2 linked regions of the Homo sapiens genome follow. The protein of the gene in region 1 interacts with the protein of each later gene in a pairwise test. Each region holds a gene or a part of one and is shown on either strand. Other genes may lie near its edges.

Region 1 (4,110 bases):
CACACACACACACACTCTCTCTCTCTCTCCCTCTCTGTTAAAAACCTCTCTCCACCCGTTGGCTGAGGCATCCCTGTGGTAGCATCTAACAAGTGCCTGCTCTAGTCAGGCACTGTGATAGGGGTAATACTCCCCATCTCTCTTAATCCTCACAGCAACTTTGTGCCATCTCATGGCTCAGGGATTAGTAAAGTGGCAAAGGCACATTAAACTCAGATTATCAATAGTAATAACCATTTGATGAAAGCCTACAACGCACGTTACTTGCTTTATAGATTTTTTTTAATTTTAAGTTTTATGACAACTTTTAAAGTAGTCATGATTACCTGCATTTTACAGATAAGGAAACTGAGGCTTAGAACATTTAGTGATTTGTCCAAGGTCATACTGCCCGGGAGCTGCAACTTCCATCCAAAGCTCAGACACCTTCCCCATGGCTGCAGGCTGAAGTGTTAAGGATAACCGACTGTGTACACCAGTTCTTTTCAGTAGATGAAATATTTTACATTTTATACCTGGAGTTTGCATTTTATACTCCTTTACATTTTTCTGAGGGAATCCAAGTTCAGGACTTTACACATTGTTGTTTTTAGCAATGGAAATGCAATGGATTTCCAATGCATATGTTACAGGTGATATACCAAGGGGATAAAGACTTTGAAAATGAGCCGGGTATTGTGGTGCATGCCTATAATCCGGGCTACTCAGGAGGCTGAGGCAGGAGAATCGCTTGAACGTGGGAGGCGGAGGTTGCAGTGAGCTGAGATCGTACCACTGCACTCCAGCCTGGGTAACAGAGCAAGATTCCATCTCACAAAAAAAAAAAAAAAAAGTGGGGGGGGAAGTTTTTAGCTTTTCTTTTCTTTTCTTTTCTTTTTTTTTTTTTTTTTTTTTGAGACGGAGTCTCGCTATGTCGCCCAGGCTTGAGTGCAGTGGTGCGATCTCGGCTCACTGCAAGCTCCGCCTCCCGGGTTCACGCCATTCTCCTGCCTCAACCTCCCAAGTAGCTGGGACTACAGGCACCCGCCACAACACCCGGCTAATTTTTTGTATTTTTAGTAGAGACGGGGTTTCACCGTGTTAGCCAGGATGGTCTCGATCTCCTGACCTCGTGATCCGCCCGCCTTGGCCTCCCAAAGTGCTGGGATTATAGGCGTGAGCTACCGCACCCGGCCAGTTTTTAGCATTTTTATTATTCAGGGTGCACTTTGGAACTTTTGCAGAAGGACCATCCCTTTTCTCGATCTTTTCTGAAAACTCTCATTTTGAGATGAATAACTGAGAATAAAGTTCTGCCTTAAAATACAAAGCTATACAGATTAAACACACCTGGGAAATTCCAACACCCGAGTTAATATACTCAGTGATGATGGTGGGCCGCTCAGCTTCAACAGAGAGGTTTTAGAGGGCTGAGAGTGCAGACATGACGCTCATGATGAATTAGCATGTTTACAAGGTGCTAGCCTGGTGCTGAATTAACACGTTTTTAGCGTAACATCATTTGGCTGATGGTGGTGATTTGCTCACATCCTCCTCTCTCCCTGTCATCCTCCGGGGCTGAGAATCAGGTCAGCTAATGACTTTGGTTATCAGTCTCACTCTCACACCTCTGTGGAGACCTTGACAGGGGCTCCAGGAAGCTAGACTAACTCGGTTTAGATCCTGGCTCAGCCACCTCCTAGATGTGTGACCTTGGGCAAGTTTAACTTCTCAATCTCAGTGCCCACCCTTAAGGCTGCTGTGAGGATTACATGAGATGGTGCAAGTAAGGCATTTAGCACGGGTGCTGTGCTGACGTCATTCACCCAGTCCCATGCTGGTGCCCCAGGAACAGGTTCTCAGACCTTTCAAAGGCTGGGGGATTGGGAGGCTGGACGTGGCTGGATGGATGCTGCACTGGCGGGGTTCTGGCTACAATGATGGTCGCTTTCCTCTCTTTCAGGCCTGTGGTCAAATCGGGAGACAAGCCCAGCCTTTCGGCGAGATACGTCTAACCCTGTGCAACAGCCACTACATTACTTCAAACTGAGATCCTTCCTTTTGAGGGAGCAAGTCCTTCCCTTTCATTTTTTCCAGTCTTCCTCCCTGTGTATTCATTCTCATGATTATTATTTTAGTGGGGGCGGGGTGGGAAAGATTACTTTTTCTTTATGTGTTTGACGGGAAACAAAACTAGGTAAAATCTACAGTACACCACAAGGGTCACAATACTGTTGTGCGCACATCGCGGTAGGGCGTGGAAAGGGGCAGGCCAGAGCTACCCGCAGAGTTCTCAGAATCATGCTGAGAGAGCTGGAGGCACCCATGCCATCTCAACCTCTTCCCCGCCCGTTTTACAAAGGGGGAGGCTAAAGCCCAGAGACAGCTTGATCAAAGGCACACAGCAAGTCAGGGTTGGAGCAGTAGCTGGAGGGACCTTGTCTCCCAGCTCAGGGCTCTTTCCTCCACACCATTCAGGTCTTTCTTTCCGAGGCCCCTGTCTCAGGGTGAGGTGCTTGAGTCTCCAACGGCAAGGGAACAAGTACTTCTTGATACCTGGGATACTGTGCCCAGAGCCTCGAGGAGGTAATGAATTAAAGAAGAGAACTGCCTTTGGCAGAGTTCTATAATGTAAACAATATCAGACTTTTTTTTTTTATAATCAAGCCTAAAATTGTATAGACCTAAAATAAAATGAAGTGGTGAGCTTAACCCTGGAAAATGAATCCCTCTATCTCTAAAGAAAATCTCTGTGAAACCCCTATGTGGAGGCGGAATTGCTCTCCCAGCCCTTGCATTGCAGAGGGGCCCATGAAAGAGGACAGGCTACCCCTTTACAAATAGAATTTGAGCATCAGTGAGGTTAAACTAAGGCCCTCTTGAATCTCTGAATTTGAGATACAAACATGTTCCTGGGATCACTGATGACTTTTTATACTTTGTAAAGACAATTGTTGGAGAGCCCCTCACACAGCCCTGGCCTCTGCTCAACTAGCAGATACAGGGATGAGGCAGACCTGACTCTCTTAAGGAGGCTGAGAGCCCAAACTGCTGTCCCAAACATGCACTTCCTTGCTTAAGGTATGGTACAAGCAATGCCTGCCCATTGGAGAGAAAAAACTTAAGTAGATAAGGAAATAAGAACCACTCATAATTCTTCACCTTAGGAATAATCTCCTGTTAATATGGTGTACATTCTTCCTGATTATTTTCTACACATACATGTAAAATATGTCTTTCTTTTTTAAATAGGGTTGTACTATGCTGTTATGAGTGGCTTTAATGAATAAACATTTGTAGCATCCTCTTTAATGGGTAAACAGCATCCGATTTTGGTTGTGCCATCATTTATTTAACTATTACCTGATATTTAGTTGTTTCCAACCTTTTCCTACTATAACACTCTTAAAATGTTGCATATATTTTTGTTTCTTTAGGATAAAGACCTAAAAGTAAAATTATTGAATCAGTCCCCACCTTCACCTGAGCCTGCCATTTTCACATCAATCAAAACAGATTAGCTTCATCCTGCATTACCCTTCTTCCTTTTGTTCTTTCTTGGTAACAGAGGAGACGATGCTCCTTTCATGATAAATCACTAAGTCATCTTGTTGTTGAGGTAAAATATTCGTACTGAAAATTGCTTAAGTCGTAAATGTACAGCTCGATGACATCATAAAGCAAACACACCCATGTAATCAGCCCTCCAGAAGTCTGTCGTTAGTTTTAAAACCAAGATACTTTTAGAGAATGGAAAGCAAGAGTGGCTTTCTGTTCTCTAAATGAAGTAGCCTATGTGTGAAAGCAGAAGAGAAAGCTGATAAATTACCCATGAGACAAATTCCCCATGTCGCTCCTCCCTGAGCCCAGCTGACAGGGCCAGGAGGTGCCCAGCACACCCAGTCAAGGCAGGTGCCAGGTTTTGAGGCCTCCTGTGGAAGCAGGGCCTGGGCTCGGGGCTATCTCTGAATTCCCTGGGAAGGATGAGCATCTCACAACAGGTCGCTCCCCTTCTCATGGGAGAAACTTGTGAAGTTGACCCTGGAGCACCAATGAATGTCAAAGAATCTGTGCCAGGGCAAAAACAGGAAAAGGGCATTTCTGCCAAAAGCAGCATTTCCTCTTCAACCT
Region 2 (7,306 bases), on another chromosome or scaffold:
CTGGTCCTTCATGCAGCTCATGGTGGTGTTCAAGTGGCCTAAAATTCAGTGATGATATTTTCTTTCACTCAATTACGTAGCAAAGAATGAGGTTTGAAACAGGGTGCCATAATTAGTTTGAATGAGGGTACTATGCTGAAAAAATATATGTCTATATACACACACGTATCTACATGCGTGTGTGTGTATATAAAATCTTACCGAATTGTACATGAGGAGCCTTCTCAGTTTCAGTTATTTGTAACATTATCTATTATCATTAAATATTATTCACTTGACAAATACTTATTTAAGGACTAGTGGAAAGACTGTAGGCAGGGGTGTCTTCCAGAAGAAATTGGTATTTAAACTGATACCTAGAGGGTAAGAAAAGTTATTAGAGCAACCAAAAGGGGAAAGGGTAGTTCAAGCAAGAAAAAAAAAAAAAAGTGTTTATGTGCCAAGAGTTGAAGAACAGCTTGGCCCTTCCAAGAATTGAGGAAGCTGGTTTGGTAGAAGTATTGAGGGACCCAGTAAGGTGTAAGGCTGGAGAAACAGTCAGGGGCGTATCAATAAAGACTTTTTATGCTATTTTGAGGAGGTTTGTTGTCCTCTTATAGTGATGGAAAGCTGTTCATCTTCAGAAGAGCATCTTCTGTTTTGTGTTTTAGAAGGATTAGAGCAGGCGAGATTGAAGACAAAGAGGCCAGTTAGGAAATTGTTGATGTTTTACAAGCGAGAAATGAAGGCAGACTGGATTAAGTAGGAAGAAAGAAAACTAAAAGGATTTGTGTATAGAAATGATGGATCTTTTCTGACTAATTAGGAACTGTGGGTGAGAGGAAAGCAATCTGGAAGGTGTAAACAAATTAAGAATGAACTTTCAAAACATGTGCCAAGTCTCCTAAGAATGTGTTGTCTCCAAAGTTTATTTCTGATCATTTAAAATAACTTACCATTGCTTTTGCAATATAGATCAACATCGGTCTAGTGGTTTCAATTTATATAAGAACAAACTATATTATTTTTCTATCAAGCAGCTCTGAAGAAGGAGACATAGTCTGTTACATATATATCTTTAGTGCATACTAGCCCTGTCAAAAGGACTAAATGCCTGAGCAATTTAAAGAAAAAAAATCAGAGGCAAACCGAAAAATTATGGCCTATAGGGAGCATATGCAAATTTCACAAAAATTAATGAAATGCTTTTCCTTAGGGAGCATCTTATGATGCAATAAGCCAATATTTACATTTTAAAGGAGTTTTTCTGTTTTTTTTTTTTTTTTCAGAGACTTCCTTCATATAGGAGCTGGAGGACACAGCACATTGGAAATCAAGAAGAAAATAAAAGTAAAAACAGGAATTCTAATGTCATCCCATGTATGTAGTTTATTTTTTTATTTTTTGTATCAGATAAAGTTAAGCTCTTTTGGATTTGTTTAATGTGGGACACACAGTCATATAAATTATCTTGAAGCAAGTTTTCAACATTTGGTTGTTAATAGGGAAGAAGTTACTAGGTATTAAAATACTAGTTATTGCAAGAACTTATAATCCTGAACATTTACAATGGGCTTTGGAGGGTAGACTGTATTCAGTGTTTTCTTTTTACCAATTATTTCAGAAATGGGTTGTCATAAAAGAGAAATATATAAAGCTGGGAGAAAAAAGAGCAAGTCTCTTTTACCCATTTTCTTTCATTTTTAGTTTATTTCAGTTATTTACTCCAGGGTAATTGACAAATAGTAAAAATTACATCCATTTGTTCTCTATATGTTTCCTTTTTATCCCTTATAACTGGGAGGTTGAAAGTAAGGGGAAAATACTCTATAAATTCTAAATCTTCAAATTTAACAGATCAAAATATGCACAGTTTCAATACTTGAATTCTACTATTTAAGCATATTAAAATGATCACATATGGTAATTTTATTCAGCTGCATAAACTAAAATTAGCATGGATAAAATATAACACAAGTTGATAAATTAGATGACCAAATAAATCAGATCAGTGCATGGTTGACCTAGTTAATTTTCATAGGAGTCCTTATGAATGTAGTTTAAAATATGGAATTGATGGTGATATGGTTAATCAAATCATTTGACCAAGTTATTATAAATTATAGAAATTAAGAAACAGTGAGAAATTATAGGTCAAATAATTTTCTGGGCTAAATAATTAATCAAAGCTACCCATATAAGATTGTTAATTTAATATTACTGGAGTATAATTGAGGGAAAAAATCTACGCTATGTATTTTGTAAACTTATATCAAGCAGAATTATAATAGTCCATGGGAAATTAAAGTATATGTATCAAAGATTAAATAATCATATATAATGATATGATATCTCTTTGTTGTTTGACATGGAATTATGTTCCATGTTTTTTCCTGGAATCCTTTTTCTTAGACTTTTGTTGTATAATTTGTTTATCGACAAGTACTGAATTTTATATAGGATCTTATTTCATGTAGATCAGTAAGTTTTCATAATACAATCTGTCCCTTTTTAAATACTTTCAAATTTCCACATGACAATGAAGAAGAAATTTAATTTTTTCAAGGAAGACTTACTACTGATTTATTTCACATAGATGACTATAACAGAGTGCCACTTAAACATGAGCTGGAAATGAGTAAAGAGAGTGAGCATGATTCAGATGAATCCTCTGATGATGACAGTGATTCAGAGGAACCAAGCAAATACATCAATGCATCTTTTATAATGGTAGGTACTTAAATTGCCAAAACCCAAGATCCAAACATTTTAAAATAATATCTATGTTATTAGGGCCATTCATTAAGCGATTTTATAAAAGAATAATGAGCTTGGTCATAACTACATATAGATTGACATGAGAGTTTCAATTTCAATGCTACAATTTAACTTAATGAAAGATTTAAAAATACTATAACCTAATAACCTGAGACAAAATAAGATAATGCTATTGGTTATATTTTATGACAAATATAGCTATAATCACATCAATTTTAAAAATAGTAAAATTTGAGCAAATACAAGTATTTGAAAATGTTTATACATACTCAGATACCCAAATTGTAGGCAATGACAAATTTGTATATTTGTATGGTTAGAAACTTTTCATTCAGATAAACTGAATTATTAGGTGAGTCTGTGTCATATCCCCCCACTTTTTTAATTAACTGAGAATTCAAACAATGAAACTTTAGTCATTTATTAAATATTTATTATTTATACACTGTTGGATTTACTTATTTTCCAAAGTTTCCTAAAGCACACATTCATAGAATATTAGTTTAATTAGGAAATATAATAAGAATGTAAAGACACTAATTAAAATTAGTATAGACACGATGAAGGTAATTTGAAATGCTTAAGTAATTCCTTTTTACAATCACATTAACCTTTATAGAGAAACAAAAATGTGTGTCTTTTGTGGAAAGGAAAATTTGTTTCGCAAGATATGTTGTAATCTTGATTTCACATTATTAGCTAAGAATTACTATTATCTGTATAATTATTTTACATATAGCTATTACATTGTTTCTTGTAAGAAACATAAGAATATTACTATTTGTATGTAACAGCATTGATATCAAACTGACTATATTTCCAAATGGTTACTTTAAGAATCTACTGAGCTCTCTTCTGTAGTAACGAAGTCCCACCCTTTTTTTGTCTAAAAAGAGCTACTGGAAACCTGAAGTGATGATTGCTGCTCAGGGACCACTGAAGGAGACCATTGGTGACTTTTGGCAGATGATCTTCCAAAGAAAAGTCAAAGTTATTGTTATGCTGACAGAACTGAAACATGGAGACCAGGTTTGTACTTTTGAGGATTTTCTTTTAAGCCTTTCTGTCATAAAACGTCATTCTCTAGTCTTGGATTGCTTGCTTCATCGCCATACCCACGTCTTTTTTTATCCCTCCATCACATAATTCTGTCTGCTCAGTCTTACCCCTTTCACCCTGGTGTTGGCCTCCATCAGCTGTGTCTGGATTCTGACAGTCTCTCCTGTTTGTCCCCTCCAGTCTTGCATGCTGCTCACAGATTAGCCAGGATGCAGCAATGTCAGCGTCACAGCAAATAACAGCTACATTTTCACGCTGTTTTCCTCATTTTCTCAAGATAAAAGCCAAGATCTTTTTGTGATATCCAGCACCCTGGACAATCACCCCCTCATGTGTCTTTCATCTTCCTCCCATTTTTATGTTTTCCATCCTCTCCACTCTGGACAAGCAGGTTTCATGCCCAAGCCTAAACACGCCATTTGCATTGTCATCACTGAGTCTAAACTTATTGATATTCCATGTAACTAAATGTGTGCTGTCTTCCAGTTTTGACCCTATTCTTTTAACAAGACCAAACTCCTGAAAAATGTATCTATATCATCCTTTCTTTATTCCCATATAATATTTATTGCCATAAAAGTCTATAGTTGAAGGTGAATCTAAGCTATAATTTGATTTTTTTACTTAATGCTTGTGACAGATATTTTATCCTTTTCTTAATGTCTTCAGTTATTATTAAAATTTCCCTGGTGGTAGATCTCACTCAGCTTTAGCACCAACCACATTATCTGACATATGTTCAAGCCTATTCAGTGAATAACCTTATAAGTATGCAAAAGATTTATGCTTTTTTATGCCCCTCTCTCTCCCCTAAATCTCACTCTTTCTCACCCTCACCTGGTCCCCTTCCCCTGTACATGGAAAGTTGCTTTTTATGTTTTTTGTTTTAAAGGAATATAAGTCCAGATTTCTAGCATGGAATTCCCACAATCCTTTCCTTCATATAAATTGTGAAAGCTGGGAAACAGGATGGAAGTACCGGCAGGACTCCCTGTCTTTGTCAGAAATTGTGGGGTTGTAGTTGGTAGACAACAGTTTGTAGTAAGAAGAAACACTTTTGTGGTTCATCTACTCTTCAATCTGGCCCTTTCCTTAGCTATGTAGACAAAATATATAAAGCTGCTTATGGTGTTGGTCAACAAGATGACAGAGACAAAGCTCCAAAAGATGCAGCCTCCTTCCTCAAGAACCACTGAAGGGACAGTGGGACCTGAGTTATTGAAAGGGTCATGAATAACATTGACTCATGCCAGCCATAAATATTGAAGAGGTCATGATAAGCATGTGGAAAAGAGGAGCAAACCTCAAAGACCTACACTAAGGAAAACAGCTGTTCCGGGGGTGTCCCAGTCACCTCGATTGTGCTCAGCTTCCCTTTTCTTACACAAGGAAACACCACATATTTATTAAATGGGTCGCCAGCACTTAAATAGATTCTGGATTTTTATAAGTAGGTTTCAATTTTAGAACACAATAATTTTCATTTAATAGAAAAGAGGCACAGACAGAGAAAGAAAGGGAGAAAGAGGGAGACTGATCCTTTGCATATTTCAAATAGGAAACAAATTGTTGAATTGTCTTCTTTTATCTAGGAAATCTGTGCTCAGTACTGGGGAGAAGGAAAGCAAACATATGGAGATATTGAAGTTGACCTGAAAGACACAGACAAATCTTCAACTTATACCCTTCGTGTCTTTGAACTGAGACATTCCAAGGTATGGAAACAATTTGGGGAGTATATTTCTTTGATATAATGGATCTGGTAGCAAAATGAATATAAATTACTCTATGCAGGCAAGGCCATCATATAAATAATGTTTCAGAATAACATTTTAAAATTATTTAAATAGAAGTAACTGTGAAGAAAATATGACTATCAAATTAGAAAATAAGCTGAACTTCACTCCAGTTAATGCTCTCTTCAATTCTGATTTTAGAGGAAAGACTCTCGAACTGTGTACCAGTACCAATATACAAACTGGAGTGTGGAGCAGCTTCCTGCAGAACCCAAGGAATTAATCTCTATGATTCAGGTCGTCAAACAAAAACTTCCCCAGAAGAATTCCTCTGAAGGGAACAAGCATCACAAGAGTACACCTCTACTCATTCACTGCAGGTGCGTGGGATTTGGTAGAATGTGCTCTCAAAATCATAATGCTTGACTTCTCGGTTCACATGTTGTCTTATCTAGTTATCCTCATATATGAAACACATAACCACAGTAAAAACTTCTTATGGAGTCGGTCACTCTCTTGGTTGTTTCCACAACACAACTATTGTAGAAATATAATAGAAGTGATTATATTATAGTGCAATAATTTTAAGTTGTGTTTTTTAATACTTGGTGTCATGTCATCTTTGATTCCTTGGTAGCTAACATTGAGCCAGGAATGTCATTTGTGTGAATGAATTAATGAATGGAAGGGTGTGTGAACAGATAGGTAGATGGGTATCACCTTACACATATACCCATATACATTGATCTACTCTATTAGGTGTCACAAAGACACCTAATATGTTTAATGAACACAAAGTTTATTAAACATATTTTAAGTTAAATATTAACTGAAATCACAAAGCTTAGCAATTTTGATTTGAAACTCATTATTTAATTTTCTAAACTGAACCAAAGGCAAAGATTGTGGTAATATCAATAATACTACTAGATTTTATTAGTTTCTTCATCTGTGATAGGTGCTTACATATTCACCTTAAATAAGCAATATAATTGAAAGAAAGATATATAATATAAAAGTTTACATGAAAAAGAATATTGAAGTAAATGAGAAACGAAAAATAGTAAAGTAAAATGAGAAATGTTTATCTAGTGAAAAACTTTTGGAATTTTTGAAAAAGTCTAATTGTTATTATTGGAATTGCATATACTAGAATCAAGCCTTAAGAAATATATGAATTTTCAGCATTTATGTGGAAAGAAAGCTGAGGAAGGGAAGTTTACACTGTAAAACTATATATGTTTCTTAGAATATGATTTATGTACAATAACTAAAGTGTCCTGCTGATAACATATTGTTTAAATTGAATCTTTATGATAATGCTTTATACTTCTCATTGTTTGGTAAACTATTTGATTGCCCTCTTTTTAGTGAATAATTCTACTAGGTATTACTTTTCTACTGATGCAGAAGTGAAAACATTTGTGAAACGTGGTAGAGAGGCAGAAGAGTGAAGAAGAGCATGTGTTCTAGTAATTTACAAAATATTAGGTCTAATATTTCTGATTACATCAGCTTTCTCTTCTCCAAATCTTGGTTTCCTTATCTATCATACTGGCATTCTGATATTGGTTTCAACAACTTCAGATGTAAATAAAAATGCATTAAAATCCATAAAATACTAAATAAAAGAAAATATATTTGTAAAGTCGAAGACAAATAAGTTTTCAATTCCAGGATTATCACACTCTTAAATTGAAAAATTTGCCTAAAAATGCATTTAGCGTAAATAATTTGGTTCTTGAAAGAGGTTG

Evidence for each region.
Region 2: the proteins of CD8A (region 1) and PTPRC come close enough for resonance energy transfer, tested with the Homo sapiens proteins (one study listed by BioGRID).

What each region holds. Positions count from the first base shown.
Region 1 is NC_000002.12:86,783,804-86,787,913, reverse strand, and holds the end of CD8A (T-cell surface glycoprotein CD8 alpha chain isoform 1 precursor), read left to right. Parts: intron 1-1,942; coding exon 1,943-1,994; 3' UTR 1,995-3,304; downstream 3,305-4,110. UniProt on the Homo sapiens protein: Integral membrane glycoprotein that plays an essential role in the immune response and serves multiple functions in responses against both external and internal offenses. In T-cells, functions primarily as a coreceptor for MHC class I molecule:peptide complex.
Region 2 is NC_000001.11:198,746,841-198,754,146, forward strand, and holds part of PTPRC (receptor-type tyrosine-protein phosphatase C isoform 1 precursor), read left to right. Parts: intron 1-1,268; coding exon 1,269-1,359; intron 1,360-2,575; coding exon 2,576-2,709; intron 2,710-3,651; coding exon 3,652-3,786; intron 3,787-5,408; coding exon 5,409-5,531; intron 5,532-5,753; coding exon 5,754-5,932; intron 5,933-7,306. UniProt on the Homo sapiens protein: Protein tyrosine-protein phosphatase required for T-cell activation through the antigen receptor. Acts as a positive regulator of T-cell coactivation upon binding to DPP4.